Linked DNA regions of Homo sapiens: region 1 is linked to region 2. Evidence: fine-mapped expression QTL. A gene starts in region 2. The other region holds a variant in brackets. All regions are shown on one strand. Distances are between the middles of the regions.

What was found.
Region 1: its variant is fine-mapped to the expression of NUDT6 in whole blood (TOPMed, PIP 0.98).

Annotation. Positions count from the first base shown.
Region 1 is chr4:122,947,692-122,965,063 of GRCh38, forward strand. All of the region lies in intron 9 of AFG2A (AAA ATPase AFG2A), which reads left to right. Among named protein-coding and RNA genes, the nearest start is that of AFG2A, 33 kb to the left of the region's middle. The variant C/A (reference allele first, on the strand shown) is at 10,296.
Region 2 is chr4:122,917,088-122,928,682 of GRCh38, forward strand. NUDT6 (nudix hydrolase 6) reads right to left here and starts at 5,510. Exons shown (of 5, transcript NM_007083.5): 1 at 5,248-5,510; 2 at 414-617. The coding sequence starts at 5,485. It overlaps AFG2A (AAA ATPase AFG2A), which reads left to right and starts at 5,991. Exons shown (of 16, transcript NM_145207.3): 1 at 5,991-6,218; 2 at 10,547-10,671. The coding sequence starts at 6,056. RefSeq lists enhancers at 5,654-6,190, 5,983-6,352.

The DNA of each region.
Region 1 (17,372 bases), 33 kb after region 2:
TCCTACCTCTAAAGGATAACCACCATTATAGTGTATACAGTCAGCCCTCCATATCCTTGGGCTCAGCATCTGAGGAGTCAACCAACTGTGGTCTGAAAATATTCAGGAAAAAAAAGTTAAAACAGTAAAAAATAATAAAAACTTAAAAAATATAGTATCACAACTACAGTTGACCCTTGAACTATGAGGGCTTGAACTGCATGGGTCCACTTATATATGAATATTTTTCAATAAATATATTGGAAAATTTTTTGGAGATTTGCAACAATTTGAAAAAGCTTGCTTTTTCTTTAGCTTACTTTATTGTAAGAATACAGCATATAATGCATATAAAAAATATGGTTAATCAGCTGTTTATATTATTGGCAAGGCTTCAGGTCAACAATAGGCTATTAGTAGTTAGTTTTTGGGGGAGTCAGAAGTTATGCATAGTTTTTTGACTGCACAGGGATTGGTGTCCCTGACCCCCAAGTTGTTGAGGGGTCAACTGTATTTACATAGCATTTACATGGGATCAGGTAAAAGTAATCTAGAGATTATTTAAATTATACGGGAGGATGTGTGTAGTCTATATGCAAGTACTATGCCATTAACGGGCTTGAGCAGTCCTTAGATTTTGGTATCTTAGGGGTCCTGGAACAAATACTCCATAGATACTAAGGGATGACTATATCCTACTAGACTTCTCCAGAGTATACACACACACACACACACACACACACACACACACACACACACACACGGACATGTAATCAGATCCATTGGTGGCGGTATTGATGATGACAATATTTATTGATATATTGTGCTGTGCTGTGGAAATCAGGGAGAAGTGTAAACTGGAGAATCACAATTTTCCTTAAAATTGAGTGTCATGCTGGACCCCTATTAACTTCAGTGGGATGGTACCAAGTTTGAGAGGCCAAAGAAGGGACCCAGAGCCAATAAATGAAACTTAGGGCTTATTTGGCAGAACTTACTTACAGGGCGGCCCAGTGGTGATGGGCTGGACAGGAGAACTGCAATCACTTGCAAAAAGCATGCAGCTTGTATAGCATTTTCACTTAGCATCCTCCCCCCAGCAACTTCCACATGGCAACCTCCTTTCTTAAGTTATTGCTTTCAGGTGCATCTGCCATATACTCCGCACCAGCATACCCTTGCGTGGCCCTCACATTCTTATGCCTTTCTGTCATGAGATCCCTGGGGCCAGGTATGTGGAGGAGCATTGCAGCCAGATGCTGCAGTAGCAATATAAACTACAATAACAAAAAAGAATAACAAATATAATAACAATCATACTGTATAGAAAGTTTTTCAAGGGCTTAGGAGTTGATTAAAACACGTGGTTATAGGGTTTTAAGACTTAGATTCTGTAGTGGAAATATGGGTATTTAAGGCCTGCATGGCCTGGGTTAGATCGTGAGAGTCATCAGGAATACATACACAACAGGTTTTAATTAATCCATAGGTTCCGCCCTTGTGGGGGCAGTTAAGATGTCCAGGGCCATGCAATTTTACAAAGAAGGGTGCATGACACACTATCTCTGTCTCACTGCTGTCATCCACTCTAGCCCATCATTGTGTACAGCCTACCTACAGTGGGGAGTGACATTAACTTGCTCCTTTACCAGGCGGAAAATATGCCATCTCACGTTGTTGGTGGTGGGAAACTTGCTGCATGAGGTGCTGTTGTCGCTGAAGGGGAATAGGTGAAGGTCACTATACCAAGTATCGAAGTGGCCCCAGGTACTCATGTTAACTGCCTTGGTGTGGCATGGCAGGCCCACAGCGGAGGAGAGGGGGAGCTCTCCGCAGACCCAGCAGTCTGTTTTCTTCTGGAGAGAGATAACCATCTGCACCCAGTCAGCAAAGAGGTTTGCGGCACACCATCTATGGGCAAAAGGTGAGTTGTTTAGTGGGTACAAGAAAGGACAAGTCCTGGCCATTTAACAAGACATGGGGAGTTGTGTCATTCTGAGAGAGCACCACCCCTGGCAGCAGCCTGATGCCTGGTTTACAATACCAAATGGACTGGCTCCCCTCTGTAATGTGTTGCAGGAGGCCAGAGGAAGACAGTGGAGGTATAGTGTTTCATGAGAGGATGTTCATCCCCTTGCACAAGGGAGGACTAGGATTCATTATTTTAGAATTACAGTGGAGAGTATGGTATGAAATAGGTGTGACATATATATCCTGTTCTAGGCCCTTCCCCCATGGAGCAGAAAAACTGAACCATCGGGCTGGTTTGCCATTTCCCAGAACCACGTAATGATGTGCTCCCCAGTAGGTTGGTCCTGTGGCAAGGGCCATAGCAGATTACTTTGTGTCCCAGGTTGGGGGCAAAGGTCTGCTGTCCCTTACCCTGTCTACCTGTATCCTGATGGTCGTATCACATCCTTGTGTTAGAAGAGTATACATGATGGGGTGATGAGAATGTGCATATTTATTCAGTTTGTGCACGGCTGCTGGTAAGCAGCGTGTCCACAGAGCCAACTCCTATAGGAGTTGTTTCAACAGTCCATTCAATTTGTTCAGTCAGCCCCACTGCTGTAGGGTTGTACGGCAGGTGAAAATGCCAGTGGATATCCAGGGCCTCTGCCTATTCTTGTACTTTATATCTGGTAAAGTACGAGCCCTAGTCATTGTTAATTTTTTTTTTTTTTTTGAGATGGAGTTTCGCTCTTGTTGCCCAGACTGGAGCGCAATGGCGCGATCTCGGCTCACTGCAACCTCCGCCTCCTGAGTTCAAGCAATTCTCCTGCCTCAGCCTCCTGAGTAGCTGGGATTACAGGTGTGTACCACCACACCTGGCTAATTTTTTGTATTTTTAGTAGAGACAGGTTTCACTATGTTGGGCAGGCTGGTCTCAAACTCCTGACCTCAGGTGATCCACCCGCCTCAGCCTCCCAAAGTGGTGGGATTACAGGCGTGAGCCACTGTGTCTGGCCCATTGTCACTATTGATGGAGACGCTGTAGGCTGCACACATCTGTTCTGGTCCTTTTATGGTGGCATGCTTGCTGGGTTATGCTCGTTGTAGCCCTGTGCAGGTTTCTGCACAAGTTAAGGCATAGTGGCAGCCATCCAATAGGGGCAAAGATCCTATGTAGTCTACCTGCCACCATTGTGCTGGGCTCTGGCCCTGGGTGATCTTTCTGGTATCAGGTGGCAAGGGCCTGGGGTGTTCCTGTGCACGGGTAAGACATTGCTGACAGATGTGTACTGTGTCTTTGTATCATAGTGGCAGGCTCCAATTCTTTGCTATGGCCCAAAGGGTAAGTTGTCCCCTATGTCCTGTCTTCTTTTGTAACCAGTTGACCACATCGTCTGTGGGGACTCCCTTGAGGAGACGAATGCAGGTTAATTTGTCTGCCTGTTGATTTCCAGGTTGGTGTAGATGCAGTGTGGGGATCCACATGGTAGATCATTTTATGCATCCCCCAGATGCAATGGGGAATGTCCTTCTACATGTCAGGGCACCAAAGGAGGTGACCTGCTACTGTCTAGTCCTGTGCTTCCCATTGTAGTAGCCACATGGTGAGTCCCTTTACATTGGATTAGGTAAAAGTAATCTAGAGATTATTTAAATTATATGGGAGGATGTACATAGGCTACATGCAAATACTGTGCCATTTTATATAAGAGGCTTGAGCTGTCCTTAGATTTTGGTATCTTAGGGGTCCTGGAACCGATACCCCATAGATACTAAGGGATGACTGTATCCTATCAGACTTTTCCAAAGTACACACACACACACACACACACACACGCACGCACACACATGTAATCAGATGCATTGTTGGCAGTATTGATGAAGACAATATTTATTGATATATCGTGCTGTGGAAATCAGGGAGAAATGTGTACTGGAGAATCACAATTTTCCTTAAGGAATGTCATGCCGGATGCCTGTTAACTTCAGACAGCCCACCTGTGAGTACACAGGACTGCTGGGTCTGGCTTATAGAGGAGGACCATCCTGGCAGCTTGCAGCTCAGCTCATTGGCTGCTATGTCCTTGGCCTGTATCATCAATCCAGATCCTGTCAGTGGATGGCTGGATGGCTATGCCTGCTCAAGTGCAAGGATTGCCTCGTGACAAGCTGTTTGTGTACCAGGCCTGGTCAGTCATTGGGCGGTCAGACATTGGGCCCTGTCTATCCTGTATGAAGGAGAGCATCTGTGGAGGCTCAGCAGCCTCCCTAAAAGACTATGTGACAGTTGTTACATAGATGACAGGGCCAAGCACTGAATGGAGCTCTGAGCTCAAGGGGCTATTAATGTGCTCCTTTGTTGCAGGTATGTAAGCCATTTGGCCACAGTCTGTGTCTGGGCATTCCCAGACTTCAGTTTCTGGAAGATACCCTTTAGCCAACCTGCTTTGGGGTACTGGCTGCATACTAGCATCAGGACCCCTTTTGTAATGTCCTCTACTTGTTGTAAGGCATAATGTATAGCACAGAGTTGTTGTTCCATCACACTGTATCTAACTGCACCCTTTTTCCGTAGCTGGGACCAGAATCCTAAAGGCGCATATGTATGTCTCTGCCTTTGCCACGGGCCTCACCCAAACCCCTCAAGGTAACTGGCTACATCTAGTTCACAGGCTGTCTCTGCACCTGAACTCACAAGGCTTGTATTTATTTCACTGTGACTTCAGCTGGTTCAAAGGCCTCATCCTTCTTCGTGGATTAGTCTCAGTGGGCCCCCTTCTTGACTAAACAGTATAGGGGTCTAAGGAGTTGGGCCAAATGAGGAATAAAATGATGCCCATACCCTAGGAGTCCTAAGAAGATTTATAGCTGCTTTGGTGTCACACGATGTGAGTAGGCCTGCACCCTATCCATAATGGCAGACTCAAGTATTTGGCTGATAAGCCTGGACTCTGGATTTTTGTCTGTGTTTATAGCTCATCCTGTTTGCCAGATGAGGCAGCAAGGTGTGAGGGCGCAGTTTGAAAGCTGGAAAAAGACTCAGAAGTTAGCACGATATCATCACTGTAATGGAAAATGTGTACCCCTTCCAGGACCTCCATGGCTATATAAATATCCCTGGGGCAAGATGGTAAAAGTCTATTGTTCTTCCCAGGTGAATGCAAATTGGTCTTGACTCTCTGCGGCAATGGGGATGCTGAAGAAGGCATTGGTTAAATCAGTAACAGAGTGGTAGTGGTATGTGTCCAGTGCCTCTCCCGCCCTCTTTAGAAGGGAGGTGATATTGGGAACATGTGCATACATTGGGGGGACTGCCTTACTTAATTCCCAGTAATCTAGTGTCATTGTCCATGTCCCATCAGGCTTCCACATGGGCCGTACATGGCTGTTGTATGGGCTGTGCACTGGCCTTGTAATGCCTCCTTGGGCTAACTCCTTAACAATCCCTGTGGTTTCATTATGTCCCCCCAGCAGGCAGTATTGCCTCAGTGCTACTACTTGCTGTGTGGGGTTGGCAACTAGACTGGTGTCCATTTCGCATTCCCCTTGGTCACATGCTTCACCACTCTCAGTCAGAACTCCCCAGCAGTTGTTTGGAGGGTCAAGCCTGATAAGATATCCATTCTCAAGATGTATTCCAAGATGGGAGCTATACATACTAAATAGGGTTTTGGTGGCAGTCTCTCAACTTGTAATACTCAGACAGTTCAACCTTTCTGATCCCCATCCATAACCATCTTTTGCCATTTTAGCCCCTTGGAACCAACGAATGTCACCATATATGAAAGTGCATTTGGCTCTAGTATCCACTAGGGCACGCACAGTGTGTTTATTCTTAGGCGACCAATATATAGTTAGTTCTACATGTGGCCTCTGGTCCCCAGGTACCCTGGCCACCATTACTCTTATCAGGGTTCTGGGGCCTTGGCTTTCATCCAGTCTAACAGGGTTGACACTTGCTATCCCTCTGCAGGAAGGGTGGCGGGCTGAACCTGAGGCTCCTTAGTGAAGCACTCTTCTGGTGTGAGCTTCTGCCACAGTCTGACCAGAACAGCATTAGGCTGTTTATCTGTTTTCATAGTAGCTGTTCCTGCCACTACCAGGTTGTGCCACATTTGTTGGTCAGTCACCCTGATGGGCCCCTTGGCCATCTCCTTTCCTTTGGCGCCCTTGTCTTTCATCCCAGCAGCACGTACCCTTTGCCTATGCAGTTTCTCCATTTCTCATAAGTTGGTGGCTGCTTGGGCCACCTGAGACACTGGCTGTCCTACTAGGGGGCTCTGGGTAGACACTAGCACACCATACCATTGGTTGAGTGCAGACTAAGATGGTGTCTTTCATGTTGGCAGTGAAAAGCTCTTTGTTGGACCTTGGTGATGTTCAGCATAGATAGCATGTTTCATCCCTAATTTCCAGATGATGTCCTGCAATTCCTCCATAGTCTGCCATCACAAAGGAGATATGGGGATACTGCCCTCATCTGGCCACGCTTCATTGCAGCCCACAACCACCCAGCTAAGGAGGGGCATGGCCTGATCCTCATTGTTGGCACCATAGAGGTGCTGCCTCAGGGCTGGGTGGCATGCGATGTATGCCATTCCACTCATCTTGAGTCTGGAGAGTATAACACCCTCCATCCCCGTGTCCCATAGACAGAGAAGCCACCTCTCAATCAACTGTCTCTCTTCCTGAACCCACCTTCTGCCCAGCTCCACTAGTTCCATAGTGGTGTAGTGCTGCATTGTGGTATGCTACCATCTTTCAGGCAGAGACAAGTTTTGTGGGTCTACTCCCTGCAGGCACCATTGGTCTGACTTTATCTTGGTAGAGAGAACAGGACCTCTATGGGCTTATCCCAGTCCTCACTCTGCTCCTCACTAGAGCTCTCCACTGGGTCCCTGGACTTAGGAAGATTTAGTCATATAGTCCTAACTTGGCATGGGAGCTGGCGACCCTTCAAACAGGCTACCTGACAAGCTGGGATTTCCATTTTGTCATCCTGTTTCTGCAGGTAGGACAGTAGGGTCTCTGATGTTTTAGGTTGAGCTAGTCTGGCATCTCTTTCTACTCATAGTTCTTCCTATAACAGACAACCCCTGGCCTGTGCTGGGAGCTCAGCCTCAGTGGCTGCTGGGAGCACAGTCAAGAATGGCCAGCCATTGTGGCTGCCACAGCTCAGGCATCTAACTTTTGCTTAGTTAGATCCACCCCCTGCAACAGCTCTTCCAGACCCTTCGGTGTTTTTGGGGTGTTCTGTACTCATACATTGGGTCCCATCCATCAAGGATAGTGGCTTTTGGGCACCACATAAATGTGATGGTCAGCCCGGGACCCCCCCTTGGATTTCCCCTTTCCTGATCTTACGGTCTCGGTGCTCATGAAATTTTTCTCCACCTTCCTGCTGGGTTCACCAGTTGTGGTACTGAGTCCGTGTTAACTTCTGTAAGGATGGCACCAGGTTCAAGAGGCAAAAGAGACCTGGAGCTAGCAAACAAGACATAGGGTTTTATTAGGGAGAACTAACATACAGGGACAGTCCAGTGGTGGTGGACTAGACAGGAGAACCTCAACTGCTTGCAAAAAGCATGCAGCTTATATAGCACTTTTATTTGGCACCCTCCGTGCAGCAGCCTTCACGTGGCAACCCTCCTTTCTTAAGTTATTGCTCTCAGGTGCATTTGCCATACACCCACTCCCACCGTAATGGCATTAATCCATTCCTGAGGATTAATGTTGTTACGGTCTCATGGCCTAATCGCCTCCCAGTGGTCCTACCTCTTAATACAATAAAAATATCAATTAAATTTCAACATGAGTTGTGGAAGGGACATTCAAACCATTGCAGTTATTTTAGAGCTTTAGTTCAGAAATACAAATGCAATAACTTTTACCTCCAAATCATTGACTCATAGTTGTCTAATTTAGTAGGCTTTGAAGACCCTGCCTTTAGTCTTTTTGACCTTTTATCTGGACTGATATATGTAGGGAAAGAGGCTCAAGAAGGAAAAACAGTTAGGAAAAGAAAACTTGGAAGAGATATTTAGGAATCTTTGAATATCTTACTGTTGGTGGAGAAAATCGTTTTTCTTTCATTTTATTTGATCATTACCACAATTTCTAGGTTATAGGAATCACAGTTGGGAGAGACTGCAGGTTATGTAGACTATCAAGGCAAATACAAACATTCTTTTGGTACATTTTGCTCTAGGACTGGGTCTCACTCTGTCTAGTTTCTGTGAAGCTGCTTCTAGCGTCACAGGGATTAGTGGGCCTGGTCGTAGAAATGGATTACCTAGGGATCAAAAAGCAGAAGTATCAGTAGATAGCTTTGCTTCTTTCATTGCATAAGGTGGTAATGAAGAGTCTGGATTGCTGTGTAGGTGTTGCTCTGTAGGACTTGCCATGTTCAGCATGCCTTACTAGAGACTTTTTGACTTTCTAATACATTTTATGCACTCTAGAAGGCTCTGGAATTTTTGCTGTCCAGAAATACACTGTCTGATGAAGGAAAGAGATTTGTAAACAACTACAAATATAATGATAAACTACTCATAAAAATGTAAAAATGTAGTGACTTCTGTGAGGAAAGCAAATACTGTGGTTAAATAGAAAAAATGACATCTAAGAAGAAGCTTAGAGTAGGAGTTCTACAGTGAGAAAGTGAGAAAAGGAAAACATTATTTGATTGAATCCTCCTACCAACCCTGTGATAGAAGTATCAGACAGACTCAAGAAAGGCCTCAGAGCGAGTATCCAGCAGAGCTGGGATTTAAAGCCAAGGTCATCTTACTTCAACTTCATGCTCTTAATTAAAACTAATAAAAGGTGGATCTTGTTTAGAGGGGTATAAGACTTTATAATTTAATTTTAGCGTATGATACTAAGGAGAGCATCAGTTGATAAAGTAAGGAGAGCATCAGTTGATAAAGTAGAAAATATGCAGGTGTTGAACTGATCTATTTTCCCCTAATCTAGCAATGAATCAGATTATGAAGAGTAGTTTTATTTATGTATTTATTTATTTTGAGATGGAGTCTTGCTCTGTCGCCCAGGCTGGAGTGCAGTGGCGTGATCTCGGCTCACTGCAAGCTCCGCCTATGAGGAGTAGTTTTTAAAAAGATTAGTGTTCTAATTACAGAATCCAGTAGGGAAAATATGTTTGGTTTTGTGTATACTGTCCCAAATACTAGTGTATGTTGTATTATGTAGTATCATTTTCTTAACTTTATATAGCAGAATAAAATTTGAAAACAGTATGCTGGAATTTTTGCAAGAGAATTTTCTAATGAGGCAGGGTGGTATAGTGTAGAATAGGTTTTGAGAGTTGGACAGACTTGCTTTTAAAATCAGGCTTGTGATCTTAGACAGGTTCTATGCCTTATCTGAGCCTCAGTTTTCTCCATTTGTAAATTGAGGAGATTGGAGTAGATGATATTTTAGTGTCATAATGCATTATGACATTCCCTGGACGTAAGGGAGAACAAGAAAAAAATGGAAGAAAAAGAAGGATAGGAAGAATTAGAAAAAGGAAAGGGAGAAAGAAGGTAAAGAAAAAGCCCTAAGCCTCTTCAGGCCTCATCGGCTATTTTCAGTGGTCTTCTCTTTTGTATCTGTGTGAATGACTTACACTTATGTAGTTAGGGTTTTCCCATGGTGTTCTTAGAAACAGTGCTATAAAGCAGACTAATGTTGGTTGTGAAGTGCACTGCATTTTCTCATTGGAACAGTTTTATAATTTCTGACTAAAGACAGAGTAAATTACCAGTTTGATTAGTAGTGTGACTTAGAAAGCTGAAACAATTGGGAAACTATAAGCATTTGAAGTAGTAGGACTATGTTCCAAGTGCTATAGAATAGGCATAAGTGTATCCCACTTATCGAACATAACAGCAGCATTCCTGTTTACTATGATGTGTGCATTGAGCATAGGGAAAAACATTCATTCTGCATGGTAGATTTGAACTACTCTCTTAGCTTTAAATAAAAAGAATTGGACATTTGGTGTTGCATTCCACCTCAGGTTACAGCAGTTATTAGGGAATAATTTGAGTTGCTCTCAGTCCTTTGAAATAACTGCCTACACAAGTTTGAACTCACATCTGTTTTTTGTTGTTGTTGTTGTTGTTAAACATGATAAGTTTCCTTGGGCAGGTGCAAGCAGTCACAATCATTACACTGATCTTAGAATTACCCAGAAAGTTAGAATAATTGTTTTTTTAAAGAGTCATGGTAATATCTTAATATTTGGAGGCAATATTAATGACTTCTGGTATATTATAGGTGCTCAATAAGTATTTGATTAGTTGAAGAATAATTTGAGAAATATGTGTGAAATCTAGGAGACATAATTATTACCCTATACA[C/A]CCTTGATAAAGGAATAGTGTTTATTAATTTTAGAGTTGAGCTTAGTTTTGTTTGTAAACACCTTGGGAATCATCTCTTTTTTTCCACTCTTTGTTGCCTTCAGAAATCTCTGCTTTGCGCTGAGGAAAGAACTCTGAAGTGGTTATTCCTGCCTTTATAAGTAGCAATGAGCAAGTTATATGTTCTGTGTAATCTTCAAAAATGTAGGACAGTGAGGCTGCTTTAAATAACTGGTTTTAGTCCATTTTTGCCTTCCCACTGACAGATTTCCAAGCTTTGGCTCTGATACGGCCTTTAACTACATTTGTTTAAAACAAGTGCTTTTCAGGAGGTGTTTTCATTGTTCACCAGTTGTGCTATGTTTAAATGGAGTGCTTGTAAATGGCCACTGGCATATATGGGTAGTTAAGGCATCTTGACCAGATTCGTGAGTTTGACACTAAGAGACTCCATCTCCAGATGTATTTCTGGGTATGTAGGTTAAATCTATCTCTTTCTATTATTTATTCTTCCCCACGGAATTCAGGTTTGTTTCACATGTTTTTAATTCAGGACCAATCACTTAGAGCAAAGAGTCTTAAACATTATTATATGAGAATCACCTGTAGAATTTACTAAACTCGGTTACTGAATCCCCCTGACAAGAGTTTCTGATTCAGTAGGTCTGAGCTGGTGCCTGAGAATGCTAACAAGTTCCCAGGTGATGCTAATGCTGGTGCTAATGCGGCTGATCTGGAGACCACACTTTGAGAGCTATTGACCTATAGGGCATTAGTTCCTAAACCTCATTATGCATCAGGCTCACCTGGGAAACTACACATTCACTCATGCTCACAGTCACATTCCCACTCATAATTAAGTGTTTAAGGGAGTTAGGAAGCTGGAGGCAGGATCTATAATGTTTTCCAAGTGATTTTGAAGCAGCCAGTCTTGCCCTTGTCTGTGACTGGACATTTGATTCGCTGATTTAGGCAAGTGGTTCTCCAACCTATGTAAGAAGCATTTGTAGAGCTCGTGAAAACACAGTTCTGGGGTCTATCCTGCTGATTCCTGTAGGTCCAGAAGGTCCAAGTGGGGCCCCAGATTTGCATTTCTAACAAGCTTGCAGGTATGTCATTGCTGCTGGTCCAAGAACTGTACTTTGAGAATCACTGATCTAGGGCAACCAACTACCCAGTTTTTGGAGATTCTCTAACTGATTTAAATAACTGGATTAAATTTAGGGATTGAAATTCTTTGACCGTCTCTAATAGTGTTGTTGCGTTTCCTCCCAGAAGTTTTTTGTGATAGTAATGTGCTCTTCCAAACTATCATTTAACTTTGCCACTCAAGAGAAAATGAATGTCTTAAGTTTTTCAGTTATGTATAATGGTTCCGAATAAAACTTTAAAAGTGGCAAATAATTCTGAAAAAAAGTCACAAGTAAAACAGTTAATTAACAATTCAGAATACAAGTAAGAGTACAGACATGTGTATTTCCTAGTTAAGATTGTGGACCTGCATGTTTGTGCTTTTTATATGTTGTGTCTCTGATGATTTTCCCTCTTCTGGACTGCCGCATAGTGAAGGAAGCTCTGTACTTTTTAACAAAAGTTGTGCACGTATGTCTAGTAATGGCATGAATTGAAGTGATTCAGAATTTCTTAGAACATAGTGAGCTATGCTTCCTGATTGTTTCTGTAATCTAAAGGTTATTGTTTGTAGGATATGAATACAAAACCTCTGTAGTGTTTGTGTAGATTGTACATGCCTTTTCAGAGGATAGAAGGTTTACAATCCATACTTTGTGAGAGTGATAATGCGTCTTTTACAGTGTGCTTACTCTCAACATCTCTAATCTTTTATTCCAGGTTACTAAGTATTTTCCATATCTTTTAACTTTGTTCCCATAATGAATATGAAAATTGGAAGCACTACAATAGGAAGTGTTGCTTTCAACCCTTAGATCTCACATTATCTGAGCAGATAACAACGTTTGGTGTTTGTGATTGGGTGTGAAGCTTATTTTCAAAAGTTATATTTTCTTTATAATTAATTTTTTAGCTAGAGTGTGGTTTGATATGTCGTGACTTGTCCAAAGAGCTAATGTTTTGTAGTTCACCTTTTTAAAGCAAAGAGCAGCTGCATTTTGAAATGTTTTATCTCAAATGGGCAAGTTGTTTACAAGCTAGACTCTAACACATCCTGACATTTAGTGTCTGTGTTTGTATTCCTGCTGGGATTAGGCTGCCTTTCTAATTAATTAGTTGCATAGCCTTTTATTAATTCCCTCAAAATTTATAATGTTTTAAATTAACAACATAGATAAGCATACTGCATTTTTTGGGAAAACATGAAATATTAATTATGTAGCAGTGACATAAGTTTCGTAAACTCTGTTGAATGTTAGAAGATGCTTACAACAATGTTTTCCAAATATAGGGATTTATTATAAACTTATCCTTCTAAGGCTGCCTGTGCCATTTCAGGAGAGTGAATATAAATAGATCTTGATTTCTTCAAGAAGTGGACTTAGTCATTTTGTTTATGGTGAAAGGAAGTATTTGCTTTGCGTCTCTAAGAATTGTCTTTAGCATCCTTGTTAATTACACATCATTTCAACATGTTCTTACCAAATTCTCAGGCCTTGATAAGGTAGCATAACAGAACAGGAAGAATTAAAACTCATATTTAAATAATTATTTTGTTATTACAGCACTTAAATCTGTCTAGTAGCAATACCGAATCTAATAATTGTAACTTTTTCTGAGATGGAAAATTTTATCTCTTGTCCAGTGTTCTGAGATATTTTTAGCTCATTTGTCCCTCCACCCCCAACTAGCTTACTTTAACAGGGATTTATGGAGCATCTGCTATGTATGTAATAGTCCAACTCTTATGAAAGGTTCTGTTTCTAATATTTTTTACTATTTTTTCAATTCTGTCAACGTTGTTTTCTAAGTTAGAATTAAAATATTGATACTGTAGAAATTTGATATTTTAAAATAAAGTCCAGGGAAATAATGGGACTTATTGCAAAGCTTATGGTGAGCTCTACATTCAGATGCTATCATTATACTTTATCAGCTGATAAACATTGAGCAAGCTATTCAACCTCTTGGGTTTTATATCCTCACCAGCTAAGTAGGGATAACACTATATGGTTTTAAGAGTTCTTATGAGGTTTAGTAATATAGCCTGGCAGCAGTGGTGATGGTTTATATAGGCCCTTGATAAGTGTCACTTAATTTCTCCTTTTCTTCTTTCGCCTCTGGAAAATTGATATTTAAACATTTTCTAAAAATTGTATTTTACGTATATTTATGCATTTCTCTGGTAGAAGCTTGTTTGGATTTTGGCAATTTTTCTGATATGAAGTGTTCTTGATTATCCTAGTATAAAAGATAGGGAACTCTGGCAGAATCCTTTGCTTTGCTAAAGTAGTGATTTTCACTGAATCTGAATCAGTAAAAATCTTGCCCGTCAGTAAGAATATGCAGACTAGAGATATGGCTTGTTTTTGGGTAGCCTCCTTGACAGATTTTCTTTCTTTTTGAGACGGAGTCTTACGCTTTTTGCCCAGGCCGGAGTGCAGTGGCGCAGTCTTGGCTCACTGCAACCTCTGCCTCCTGGGTTCAAATGATTCTCCTTCCTCAGACTCCTGAGTAGCTGGGATTACAGGCATGCACTACAACGCCTGGCTAATTTTTGTATTTTTAATAGAGACGGGGTTCCACCATGTTGACCAGTTTGGTCCTGAATTCCTGACCTCAAGTGATCTGCTCACTTCAGCCTCCCAAAGTGCTGGGATTACAAGCATGAACCACTGTTCTGGCTGACAGATTTTCTTGCTGAACTTTGGGTCATCCCAGATGTGAGTTCGCTGTAGGCGTGTCATAGAGCAACAGTAGTAGGAATACAAGTTAAATTGATGTATATGTCATGATAATCAGTCCAATTCAGTGGTCCCCAACCTTTCTGGCACCAGGGACCGGTTTTGTGGAAGACAGTTTTTCCATGGACCTGGGGTGAGAGGGTGGGGATGATATCCGGATGAAACTGTTCCACCTCAGATCATCAGGCATTAGATTCTCATAAGGAGCAGACAACCTATTTCCCTCACGTGCACAATTCACAGTGGAGTTCACACTCCTAGGAGAATTAATGCTACTGCTGACCTGATAGGAGGCGGAGCTCAGGTAGTAATGCTTGCTCGCCTGCTGCCCACCTCCTGCTGTGAAGCCCAGTTCCTAATAGGCTAGTACCAGCCCATGGGCCATTGGTTGGGGACCCCTGCTCTAATTAATGCATTTTACAAGGGACGTATTATTGTAGCTAGATAAATAAGCAGTAATTTTGCAGCATATTTCATAAGGCAATGAATTTTCTCCTCTGTTTTATAATTCTAAAATGTAGTTATAGAATGTTATATTTGTGATATTGGGATTTGTCCTACTGTGTAAATATTATGGATATTATATAGAGATGGAATTATTTTTATCAGTGAAGTGGGTATTTTAGTATTACTTTTGCTACTCATTTGAGATGACTGGAACTGAATGGTTTGTTTCAGAAAAAGAGGTGGTAGTTTTGATTCTGTTTAAGCTCTAAATGACATATACTATTTACTTTGCTAGTAGAAGATTTTCTGGGTTGTTTTGCCAAGACTATAAAAATATAAAACTTGAGGAAAGGTTTTCTTTCTAATTAAAACAATCACAAAAATAAAACCAGGCTATCTAAATAAAAGTTATTTCTGAGAGTTATTCTTGATTCTTTTTTCTCTTACTCTTTTTTTATCTAATCCTGTCAGCTCTGTTTTCATACTTATTCAGAATTTGACCTCTTAAAAAAATTAACTACTTTCACTGCTATACCACAGTTCACACCATCATCAGCTCTTGTCTGGACTATTGAAATACCTTCTTCCTGCCTACTGTTTCTTTTTCACCTCTCATCTATCTTTATTTTTTACATTGTCTAACTTGGAAGACTTTGAATTATAGGTTTTGAAGATGAGGACAGGTCTAGGTTAGAGATATGGACTTGGGAGTTGTTAGTAGTTAACATGGTGAAGCTGTAGAAAGAATGAAATCACTAACAGAAGGTGAGTAGAGTTCCTTCACTCATTGAGCCAGGTACTGCACTAGATGGTGGGGCTACCTCAATGAATAAGATAGACTTGGGCTCTCTCCTCATGAAACTAAGACTCACAGGGAAATGGAACAGTATATAAGATAAGTACAATACAGTGTGTTGGGTGTTATGTGAATGATCAGGGTGCATTCAGAATGCTAATACAGTAGAAAGGTCTTGGGAAATACTGTCATTCAAAGGTTGGGTTGTTAAAAAATATTTGGTATAGGAAACTGAGGAGTGGCTAGAGAGATGGGAAGAGAACCCAAAGAAGTGGTGACTCAGATGAAATGAGGTAAGCACTCAGTGAGGAAATAATGGGTATTGGTTCACACTCATTGAGTACTTGGATTATGTCAACCACTGTTTGAAGCACCTTGTATGTACTAACACATTTCTTCCTCACAGCAGCTCTCTGAGGTTCTCTTTATTTTGTAGTTGAGGAAACTTATGTCAGATTAAGGAAATTTCCCAAGATCACACAGGTAATAAATAGTGGAACTAGGATCAACAGTGTTGATCACAGTAGAGACCACAGTTACATAAAGTGCTTAGTTCCCTACTTGGGAGGTCATGGGAGTGTGGAAGAGAGACATTCTAGTGGTGTCTTGTGCCTAGCTGCTGGATTGCAATAAATTGAAGGGTGATTGATTGAGAGTTGAAGAAGCAGATATAGTGATTGTCAATTTCTTTTTTAGTTTTGTTGATGTATTATTATTAATATTTAGAGTTTTTATGCTTTCCATAAAAGAGGGATAAATATAGTTAGTCCTCCCTCCTTGTCATCCCTCCCTGTCTCCAGTAAAAACCAAATCTAACTATATTTCTTTATTATTTTCCTGGTTACTCTTCTCTTACCTGGGCCCTGACTTAGTCTACCCAGCTGTGAATCTTCAGCTTCTCTTGGCATACAAATTGTACTCTAATCACCTTTTTTCAAATAACAAAAACAAAAACAAAACTCAGTATTTTAGTAAGGTTGTTAAGCCAGGTAGGTAAATAATGAAATATGAAAAATTTGAAAATGGAAACTGTATTTAGGGCAGTTTGAAACCTAGGACTGGTGAAGTGAATTAATCTTGATGTTTTACAACTATAGGTTGGTGCAAAAGTAATTGCGGCTGGGCATAGTGGCTCACACCTGTAATCCCAGCACTTCGGGAGGCTGAGGCGGGTGGACCACTTGAGGTCAGGAGTTCGAGACCAGTGTGGCCAACATGGTGAAACCCCGTCTCTACTAAAAATGCAAAAATTAGCCGGGTGTGGTGGCACATGCCTGTAGTCCCAGCTGCTTGGGAGGCTGAGGCACAAGAATTGCTTGAACCCAGGAGGAGGAAGTTGCAGTCAGCCAAAATCATGGCACTGCACTTCAGCCTGGGCAACAGAGCAAGACTGTCTCAAAAAAAAAAAAAAAAAGTAATTGCAAAAACTGCAACTAGAATAGAATAATCGACTACTCTTTCAGAGATAATTTAGTACATTCCCTTATTTCACAGATGAGGAGAGACTATGTGATACATTTAAACTCAAGCAGTTAGTGAGAAATAAGCCTTGGCTTAAGGTTCAGATCTGGAGACAAATGTGCCTTCCACAGTGCCATTACCTTTAAAAGCAACTTTTGAAAGTGATAGAGGGTTTGGAATAGACTGGCTCCTTTGATCAGTTTAAGTTACAGCAGTCACTTATAATATAAATAAGGTGAGAACTACAATAACCTTTAAGGATATTCTATTTGATTTTTTAAAAATTTATTTATTAATGGGCAGTGAGAAATGAAACTTTCCTAGTGGTACAGCAAGTGATACTTAGCACCTTGTCTATACTTAATACAGAGTTGAGGGAGAATAAAGACTCCAAATAAAACAAATTTTTTAGAGTTCTGATATTTTGAGGAAAGTACATTTTAAAAAAAGGAGACTTAGATTTTTGTTATACTTGCTTTGTTTTCATATATGTGAGTA
Region 2 (11,595 bases):
CACCTCACTTCACCTCATCGTGCAGGTGAATACAAAAGGGTGAATACAAAACAATATTTTGAGAGAGACCACATTCACATAACTTTTATTACACTATACTTTTATAACTGTTCTAATTTATTGTTAGTTACTGTTAATCTCTTACTGTGCCTAACTTATAAGTTAAACTTTATCATAAATATGTGTGATAGGAAAAAACATGGTATATATACATAGGGTTTGGTACTATCTGCGGTTACAGGTGCCCACTGGGGGTCTTGGAACACATCCTGTGCAGATAGGGTGGAACCACCGTAATCATTTAATCAAATAACTCATTCCACATGAATAAACTATTTGCTTAGCTGTAACAAGCAAGAAATTGGGTGAACGTCTAAAAAGTTAATTCTGCTCATCATGAGTTTGAAACTGACCTGCAACTCCTACTTGATGTGAAGCATATCCTGGTAATCTGCTGGGCCCTTCTCTCAGCCACAGAGTCAACGTTGATGAATCCGATTCTGCGTGGTGAAAGCAGAAGCCCAGGGAAGCAGCAGGGGCAATAAATCGGCTTTGGAGGATGGGAATGTGCAGCCATACAGCTGTTCTACCTTCTGATCGCCATTGCTGTACTGCAGCTAAATGCAGAAGAAAAAAGTCTAAATAATTTCCAAAGAGACGAGTGGAATAAATTAAAACTCACCTCAGGGTTTCGCCTCCTCCAGGAAACCATCTTTAAGCAAAAGAGGTCCCCAAATGTCTTGTTCACATCGCTGGCACTGGAAGTACCATGTTTTATAGTAACCACCTTGTTTATATGATTTTTCCATCAGACTGAATTCCTTCAGAATAAAGTCATTACACTGCTGACCTTTATATCCATACCACCAAAGACAATGCTTGGCACGTAACAGATGTTCTGTAGTTTTAGAGTGGACAAATAAAAGGATTTAAACCGAATCAAATACCATTTGAATGCTGTTCCTTTTAACATCCTTAGGTTTAATCTTAAAGACAATTATGGACTTCTATTTTTTTCTTCCTTTAGGAGTTCTGTTATAATGTTTTTAATGTATAAATTTCAAGGTAGTTAAACTTTGTTTTTAAATAATGTATGCTGGTTGTAGAAATTTTGAAAATAAAAAATATGAAGAAATCAAACTTCACATTTTACTAGCATATAGGAATAAAATTCTAATTTTTCCTTATTATAGATAATATCATGGTGAACATAATTATAGGTTTTCTATCTTTGCCTTCTTTAAATTCTCTTTACTACTTAAGATTGAGCCAGGGGAAAAAGATGCTAATATCTATTTGAAACTTACTAAGTTCCAAGCACTTTATATATATTATCTCATTAAGTGCACAACCATGAAAGGTATTACTACCTTAAGTTTATGGGTGAAGAAATAAATACTTCAGATTTAGAGTTTTTAGAAAAGCTTTTCAGATCACTTTCTTCATCCATCATCTCACTTAATCTTTATAATAACGCTATAAAGCGTGTGTGTGTGTCTGTCTTTGGGGGTTGATTATATATCAAATAGTTAATTAACTTTCCCTTCTCTTTTCCCTAGCTCTGCAGGAAGCTCCTCTCTTTAAGGACAATGTTCTCTACCTCTTTGAAAGTTGCTGTGCCTAGCACAGTGACAGGCACATGGGGCCTTTAATAAAGACTTCCTGATTTGAGTTAGCATGCAGTGGAATTATGGGATCAGGTCCTTCTCACCTTGCTCTCTTTGTCTGATGACATCTTTTAAAAATTGAGGTAAAGTACATAAAGTGAAATGTACAAATCTTAAGTGTACATTTCATGCGATTTGACATATGCATATGCCCGTAACACACTTTAACATTATAGAACATTTCTATCACTCCATACATTTCACATGTGCTCCTTCCCAGGCAATCCTTCCAATCAAATTAAAAGGCTACTTTCTAAAAGCAATGCTATTTGCTTGCTGTTTTATATCTACACTCTGTGTCTTGGAGAATCCACTCTCACTGCTTCAGCTGATACATACATGAGGATGGCTGCCCAGCCCTGACCTCACTGAACACTAAACTTTCTGTTCTCCAGTTGCTCCCAGACATTTCCTGTCCTGAAGGTTACCACTTCAGACTTCACAAAGTGTGTTCAAAACTGAATCTTTTGTTGTTGTTGTTGAGACGGAGTCTTGCTCTGTCACCAGGATGGAGTGCAATGGTGCAATCTCGGCTCACTGCAACCTCTGCTTCCTAGGTTCAAGCGATTCTCCTGTCTCAGCCTCCCAAGTAGCTGGAATTACAGGTGCGTGCCACCATGCCCAGCTAAGTTTTGTATTTTTAGTAAAGACGGGGTTTCATCATATTGGCCAGGATGGTCTTGATCTCTTGACCTCGTGATCTGCCCGCCTCGGCCTCCCAAAGTGCTGGGATTATAGGCGTGACCCACCGCGCCTGGCCAAAACTGAATCTTACACCCCAAACTAGCTTCATTTATAAGCTTATTTATTTCTGGCACCAATGCTTGAAACCTTAGAATCATTTTTAAATTGCTTTCTTCTTTTCCCTAATAAGCTTTATTGCTTTTTCTTCCCTCACCTCCCATTCCCATTGCTAATATCTATCCTTTAAAGTCCAGCTCATATTCCACATCTTTGACCAGTCTTTCCTAACCACTGCTCATGAGCTCACCATTATGAATTTAAAGACTACTATGTCTGTACAATTTATTAGAACTTATTACATATGACCTAATGATATCTCTTCCATTAGCTATTTTTTCCAATTCTATTTAATATTCCATGCATTTGCAATCCTCCAGGGTAACCCTACATTATGCACTGGGGCTCAATTTGTACTAATGAAATGACTGGCTTGCCTAAAGTCACATAGCTGGTGAGTGGCATAGCAGGGACCAGAACCAGTGCTATTTCATTACTGATGCAGATATGTTATGTGTGAAGCTAACAACATATTGCCTGTTTATCCCTCTAACTTCAGTTGTTGGTAACAAAACATCAATAGTTCATGTTCTAAAAGAATATGAATAGTTGACTTCTTATTCCACCAAGAATATGGACTTCTTAGTCCATAAAGACTAAGAATAGCGGACTTCATGTGTAAATAGTCTCTCTTTATAGGCACTACCATTCAGTTAGTTTTGTTCAATTATAACAACAGAACCAGCAGGAGTTCTTCAAGGTAGCATAGTGCAGTAAGAAAGGTGTAGAGCCAGGGCAAGTAAATTTTTCTCTCTGTGCCTCACTACTGTCATCTTTAAAATAGGAATAATAATGCTATCTACCTCAAAGGGTTGTTAGGAGGATTAATTACTATTTATAAAGATCCTAAAACATCTACCATTAAGTGCAACAAAATTTGTTTTATTGAAAAAATATAACAAGTATTTGGTACTTAAGTTTACAAATTAGTTTCATCTTTGATCAACGCATCTATCCAGTAATTAGAGCTGGCGTTATTCACAAAAAGCAAGCTAAGAAGCAAATATTTTTGGTGGCAATTTGCCTAATGCCTGGCTAAGCACATGGCAGAACCTGGTACTTAAACCCAGAATGTGCACCTCCAAATCGCACAGCTTTCTGCTTTGTCATGCTGACTGGGGTAGTGCTTTGATCACCTGTTTGGTCATTGATAAGTATCAGTGGGTACAACACCTGTGTCTACCCACACACTGGAAGATAAAACGATTGATTCTCCTATTAGTGACACTGTTGCAGTATAAGCGGGCTTGTCAGCAATTACTAGCAAGTAGGAGAGAAAATAATGTGAAGAGGTAAGAAGTCTGGGAATGAGGATGAGTAAACATTGAAATAACTAGCTCAATTATATTTACAGATATGCTTCTTGCCATATTGCTCAATAGGATAAAGATTATTTTGAGTTTCCAGTGTGAGAGATTTTTCCATAGTTGAATTTGCATGCTATGCCTTCAATTAGATTATAAAACCCTCAGAGGCCGTTTGAAAAACTGCTGCACCACTAAATCGACTTCTTCCAAAGTGAAGGCTCCTCCATCCAAGCTTTCTTATCATTGGGCTCAAGGTTGAAAGCCAGTAAAAAGTTTTCTTATTGAAGACTGAAACCACCCACCACCGTCCCTGGTTAATCATAAAAGAAGCGTTATTCTAAAAAACTCCAGTTCTCGCTGAGACAGCTGTTGACCCAATTTGTATACAAATGTGACACTCTGAACCTCTCTGGTTTAGTATTTGATAGCCCAACAGGGTGACTATATTCAATAAAGATTCAGGCTGGGTGCAGTGGCTCCTGCCTGTAATCCCAGCACTTTGAGGGGCCAAGGCGGGAGAATCAGTTGAGCCCGGGAGACTGAGACCAGCCTGGGCAACACAGTGAGACACCGTTTCTAGAAAAAATAGAAAAAAGCCAGATGCGCGCCTGTAGTCCTAGCTACCCAGGAGGCTGAGGTGGGAGGATTGCTTGAGCTCAGGGGTTGGAGGCTGCAGTGAACCCTGATCCTACCACTGCACTCTAGCCTGGGAGACAGAATGATACCCTCTCTCAAAAAAAAAAAAAAAAAAAAAAACAAACTGTACATTTAAAAATAACTAAGAGTAACTGGATTATGGTTGAATGCTTGTGGTGATGAGTATCTCATTTACCCTGATGTAATTATTACACATTTATACCTCTATCAAAATAGCTCATATACCCCATAAACATACACACCTACTATGGACCCACAAAAATTAAAAATAAAAAAGAAAAGCCTCTTTGGTCCACTCAGTCCACCACCCGTATTAGAATGTAAGAGTTTTTTTCCTTGGGAAAAGTGTCCGACAGAACCAAGGCTCGGTAAAGGATACTAATAATGTAATAATATAATATTAACAAACATCTACTGAGCTTTAAATACGTGGCAGGCACTGTGCTGTGCACTTTATGTGCATTATCCAAATTAACTCTCAGTAATTCCAGGAGTTCTTATCACCGGGGTCTGTGGAAGAGGAAATGGTGGTTTACGGCAATTTCCGAATGTCGCACAGTAGAAAGTGGACCAGCAACCAGGGTTGCAGATCCCAAAGTCCGGGATCTTCACCATTTCACCCAACCGCCTTAGAGACCTCCCAGCAAAAGGTCTAAGCACGAATGCTCCAGAAAACAGGTCCAGGTCACGCGTGCCTTCTCCCTTTCCCTCTGGGCTCGACAGTGGTGCACAGAGCGACTAGGGAGTGGGGGCCGCGGTTATTTCATTAGAAAAGCTCTGGAGCCCCGGGAGCCCTTCGTCCCAGGCGCACTTGCCCTGCAAGCCCTTCTGGAAGGCGGCAGCGTCCAGGCGGTCCAGCGCATCGAGCCGCGCCAGGCGCACCGAGATGCCCCCGAATCTGTCCAGCTCGCCCTGCAGATCGCACGCTCCAACTGGCGGATTCCGCACGTAACCCTGTGCGCCCGAGGCCCAGCGGTAACCCGCCGAAGGCCCGGGGCCGTAGGTTCGGGCAAGCATCGCGCGCCAGCGGCCCCAGCTCAGTGGCTGCCGCATCTCCACGCCGCTTAATTCGTCCGTTGCCCAAATGACCCCTCCGCGCTCCAGAGCGGAGATCGCGGCCGTACATTTTAGAAGAGTGCCATCAATACCCTCAGAGTTGAGCTGGGGTTACCACTCTGCAGAGCTATGCCAAGGAGACCGCGAAGTGGTCCACCAGCCCTTCTCAGCAATTTGCCCCGCTCCAGTTAAGCGGGGAAAACCTCCTCCCCCACCGCCACTCACTTATTTTGTTTGGTAGTTTAATTCAACAGACGTTGGTTTAGGGATGGGGAAGCCGGGAGGAGATGCAAAAACGTCCTGTTTTTCAGGAATTTACAATCTAAGTGGCAGTTCCGTTCCTGGAACCTATCTTCTTTCACAGATGCCGTTACAGCTGTTTCAAAGACTGCTGGTTTTGAAAACGCTCAGTCCCTCCCACCACGCTGTGCACTGCTGCGCTCCACTCAGGGGATTACGGCGCAGGGGCGGACCCTCGCTGACTTCTGCCCCGGAAGTTTTTCTCTCAGTTGAAGCGCGCACATTGAGTCGGCTTTTCTACTGCTTCGGCTAGGGTACCTTGTGACCATGTCTTCCAAGAAGAATAGAAAGCGGTTGAACCAAAGCGCGGAAAATGGTTCGTCCTTGCCCTCTGCTGCTTCCTCTTGTGCGGAGGCACGGGCTCCTTCTGCTGGATCAGACTTCGCGGCAACCTCCGGGACTCTGACGGTGACCAACTTATTAGAAAAGGGTAAAGAATTCCGGGTGGGAGACTAGAGGCCGAGGGGGCGCAACCTGAGGGGCGGGAGACTCAGTGATACTGACTTGGGGTGCAGAGACTTTTGAAAGTTGGGCGTGGCATGGGTCTGAGAGCGGCACAGAAGCGTGTAAGACTTCTGTATGTAAGAAGCATGCAAACGTAGCCGCGCCTGCACTGGAGAAGTTAGGCTGAAATGGTTTATCCGTGTCCAAGGTTTCTCTTTTGTAAATTATTTTGAATTTTTAAGTTGCACTTGAAACGCTTTGTCTCATTTAACATTAACGACACATTTAATTGCAAAATTGTTCATAACTAGCGAACATGGGATACTTATCCTAAAAAACTAAATAACCAATTCAGTAAAAATGTGGATCACTCTGCCTTTAGGAGTGATGATAGCATTTTCTTCCAGTACTACGCAGGTTATGATATTTAATAACTGCTAGTAACTGCACACTAGTGTTAGCAGTATATATAGCTCATCTAATTTCTACAGAAGCCGTGACCGATGGGTATAGTAATGACAGTTTTATAGAGGGAGGAAAGTTAACGTGATTCCATTCAGGCTACACAGGTGCTAAGTGGCAGAGCCGATATTTGAGTCCAGATGTGTTTGACTTAAAAGCCATTCCTAGATGACAGCTCCTTTGATTTGGGAGAACGTATTTATACTGAAAAGTCTTATAAATTGAATTAAAAATTGAAAATTTATATTTGATGTGTAATAGCTTTGAAAAATGGACCAGACTAGTGGCAAAAACTTTTATGTCTAATCAGACCTTAAAGACAATTTAGAGTTCACATGGTATTTTCACTCTGCCTTAGGTATCAGAGGACAACTTGTTCTGTCCTGAAGGTTCAACTTGTTTTTGAACTAGATCCTTCCCATTGACATGTAAACATGCTCATTTCTCTTCCATCTTAAATCAGAACAAAAGCTCCACATTTTCTTCCTGCAACCGTCTCTCTATCCATTGCCAAGCTTCTTAAATGGAGTGGTCTCTGCCGCCTCACCACTTACATACTCTCCCTAGCCTATTCCTCTTTGACTTCCACCCCATCATTCCATGGAAACTGTTCCTGGTGTGGTCTCCGAGCATCTCCGTGTTGATAAACCTTACGTGACCACAGCAACTTTTGGTATTGTTGACCATTCCCTCCTTCTCGAAACACTTAACTTCTTATGTGTTGTCAAACTTGCCTGGTTTTCTTCATCTTTGTTGATGTTTCATCATTTTTCTTTGCAGGCTCGTCCTCTTCCCTTGACCATTAAATGTTGAAGTTCGTCAATTCTTAGTCCAAAACCTTTTTTTTCCTCTCAATAAATCCTGTCTCCTTGGCAAGTTCATCCAGTGCCCAGAGTTTCCCATCTATAGTCTCTTCAGTGTCAGATTTATATTTGTAAATCTTTTGTTTTTGCGCCTTGATGTGGTTGCCTTTTAGCCAAATGCTTCTCAAGCTCTCTGTGGTGAAGACTTTAAAATTTATAATAGGTCACAGATCAGCACTTTTCTAAAATACAGTAAAAATGATTTTCTAGAAAAATAAGGAAAAATTTTTATTAAACAGATGTGAAATTACTCTGTAAATTTCAATAAAAGCTTCTATATACTTATTCTCCTGTTTTGTACTTGTCATGAAGCAGTAACAAATCGTTGTGGGTCATATTTTGAATAGCACTGTACAATAACTCTTCTCATGAGTGTCCCAAAGATACTTCAGGACTAACTTCATGAGCCCGTTATTTCCTCCAACAAAATAAACTTCAACTCTGTTCAGTTTTTCCCGCTGCAAAATTCAGAAACCTAAGAGTCATCCATGACTCTCCCCCCCATATCTCACATACCTAGTCCACCACTAAATCATGTTTATTACCTAAATATTTTACATATTCCTCTTCTGCATGCCATTCCCACTGTTTCTACCTTAATTTCAGACACCATCATCTCTCACCTGGACTGCTACAACAGCCTTTTGACTGATTTTCCAGCTTCCAATTTTGCCCCTTATTCCTTTTCCATTCTGCAGCCAGAATGATCTTGTAAGATGAAGATCTTGTCATGACATTGCTTTTCATCCCTTTCTGGGCTCCCACTGCTGTCAGAGTAATGACCAGCATCTTGATGCAGCCTATTGCACTATTGTCCTGGGTGGTCTTGACCTTCTTTACATGGCTTCCCTATGTCTCCACCACTCTGCCTATACTCTCCTGAGGATGCGCCATACCCCCTTCTGCCCAGGAACTTTGTACATGCTGTCCTCTTTGCTGAGAATTATCTTTTTCTTCTCCTCATTTAGTTAGTTCCTACTCTTCTTTCAGACCTGATCTTAACATCACTTCCTTTGAGAAACATTCTCTTATTTGAAATTAGGTCAGATCCCACATGGCTCTCCTGGCACTCTAAGTCATTTTTTCATTGTATTAATCTTAGTTTATTATTTTACAGCTATCCACTGATTGTTTAATAACTCACTCATCCTACAAGGCTATAAACTCTGTGAGACCAAGGACTTGTGAACAAAAGTGCCTAGCATAGTATCTTTCATATAGTAGGCACATAGTACATATTTGCTGAATGAATAAATGAAGGGTGGATGGTTGTTTGAAATTATCTTTACTATCTTGTTAGTTAATGTGATACTTAAGGTGCTCAATAAATGTGAAAGTAGTTAATGGGGAAATTAGATGTTGACATATTTTTAAAGTATTGGAGGAGTGAGGTGAGAAGGGAACTGTGTGGACAACTTGAGTAGACCTATATAGTGTAAGCAGAGAACACGTTGGTGATGTTTTGGAAAATGAGACCAGTGGCTGGGAATTTGAACATGATTACCATTGAAAGACAAGGTGGAGAATAAATCCTGGGACATGGAGAATGTGCTGGATAGGGTGGAAGGAGAAGAAGAAAACTAAAGTCTTGGGAAGGACTGAGAACACTTGTGTGGTAATTGTCAAGAGGGAAAGATAGTTCATTGAGGTTTAGGAAGAAAGAGGCAGGAACTGAATATTATGAGATCATCTAACAGCAGTATGCTTTACTGTTAATGACCAGCAAACAATGTAAGAGAACTAATGCTCATTGGAAGGTTGAATTTCTGTCCAGCTTCTTGTATTATGCAGTATGTGTTCATTTCGTTTTATACTCAGTGCTGTTCATCTTAGCTCTGTGAGATGCTTTGTTTTTCTAGATTTGCACCTCATATAAGAAGGAAAAGAAATGTGTTGGGGAGTTGTTTTGTAGTGACAGAATAATGTAAATCATATGGGTACCTTATGGTTTTCCTTTCCTTGATTTAATTTCTTTTTTATTACAGAATATCTGTTTTCTGATTATTAAGGAAAACTTAGGTAGAGCTCTGTGATTATGGTATATATGTTTACAATAAATTTTATAATGAAGTTGTGACATTTTTAAATTCTCTAAGTGTTTCATAGATTTTGTGCTGAAAAGAAAACCATTGTATACTTATTTACTACATTTATTCATTTTATGGCTATTTATTGTGCAACTGCTATATTTAATGCACTGTAAGCATTGGAGATACAGAGAGAAATAGGACCCAATTCCTGCTTCAAAGCAGTATACAATTAAGGAGAAAGACTAAAACAAATGAATATTATGGTAAATGCTATTAACTGGCAGCACAGAGTGCTGGAGGAATTAGAGGAGGGACACCTAACTAAATATGGAGCTTGGTGGGGGTGGGGTGGATAGAAAGGAGTGGAGATGACAGCACATCATTTTCAGAGGTGTTGTTAACTGGCCTGAATTCTGGACCCCCTTTTTCAGCCAAAAGTTGAAATCACTAGTGGTGTGTGTTCGTATAAGGAAGACGACTTCTGTTACTCTCTTTACGTATTCTTGGTAATACAAAAGAAAAAGATCTGGTGACCATAATGTGGGGCAGAAGTAGAAACATAACTTAATCCTCTAGAGCCAGATAGATGTGCCAGTTCCCAGTTCAATCCTTTGAATACTAGTAGCTGACTCAACTTTGAACTTAAAGCTCAGAGACTCTCTTTTGCAATTATGTTTACTTCTTAATGAAATTAGAGACTCAGAAAAAAAGAAACCAATACTCACCCCATAAAACATCTTCTTTTTAGTTAATACTTAATATGTTGCCAGTAGACCCTCAAAAGCATTTGATTTTAAATCTGTTTTGTTATAACAAAAGTTGGAACACTAGTTTCTCCAGGGTATGGTAAGTACATTCATGTGGTTATATGGTTAGAGTATTTTTATTTACTGCAAAAGAAAGCATGCCTTAACTTCTGTTACAAAGTAGTACAAAAATAATTTTCTTTTCCTTCATAGTAGATGACAAAATTCCTAAAACATTCCAGAATTCCCTTATTCATCTTGGACTCAACACTATGAAGTCTGCAAATATATGTATAGGTCGACCAGTGTTGCTTACTAGTTTGAACGGAAAGCAAGAGGTAAGAGTCTTTTTCATTTCCTTAGTTTAGAAATACAAACTGAACATTGCAAATCCAAGAATCTAAACTCTGAAATGCTTTTGAGTGCCATGGTAGTCAAAGGAAATGCTCATTGGAACATTTTGGATTTCAGATTTGGGATGCTTAGCCAGTAAACATAAGGCAAATATTCCAAAATGGAAAATTCAAAACGCTCCTGGTCCCAAACATTTTGGATAAGGGATACTCAACCTGTGTTTGAGATGTTTCTGATTTTAATTTTCAACACAAGCAGGAATAAATGAAAAACTGTATTTTAAAAGACATTAACATGTATATTAACTCTGTTCCTTTGCTGTCTATGACTCTGCTGGGCATAGTAGCCCCTAAAATGTTATGTAGAGAGAAGTGTTGCCTCCGGCGATAGTGACAGTATTTCTCCCTGTCAGTTAGTTATATTTCTTTATAAAAATATTATTTTGGGGGTAAGAAGGTCACCTGTTCTGTATATAAATATTTTACTATTCTCCCTTGTTTCAGCTGTTTCTCCTTGCTGTCATTTTTCATACCTGAGATTCTAAGCCTGGAACCTTTCCTGGATCATTTTTGGCAGCTTGGCTTTCTTTTCTGCTACCAGCCCCTTATCTTTCATGGCTTCCTTTGATGCTTCTCTGATTTGCTGGGGATCCTTTGGAAATACTTTGAAATTTTTTGTCTGCTGATGGCACCCCTCCTATTCTTTTCATTTTTCTGGCTTATGCTTTAAAGGTCCTTTACTGTGTCTTTTAGAAGAGAGGACTATAAATGTGTGAGCTTAAGCTAGAAATTTTCGCTCCTCCCTCTTAACATTTAAATCTGATAAGACCCAGGTTCTGACAAAGCTCTTGTTCTGTGTCCCTCACTATTTCCTGGATGTAGTTTAATTTCCAGGCTGGATTACTTTAC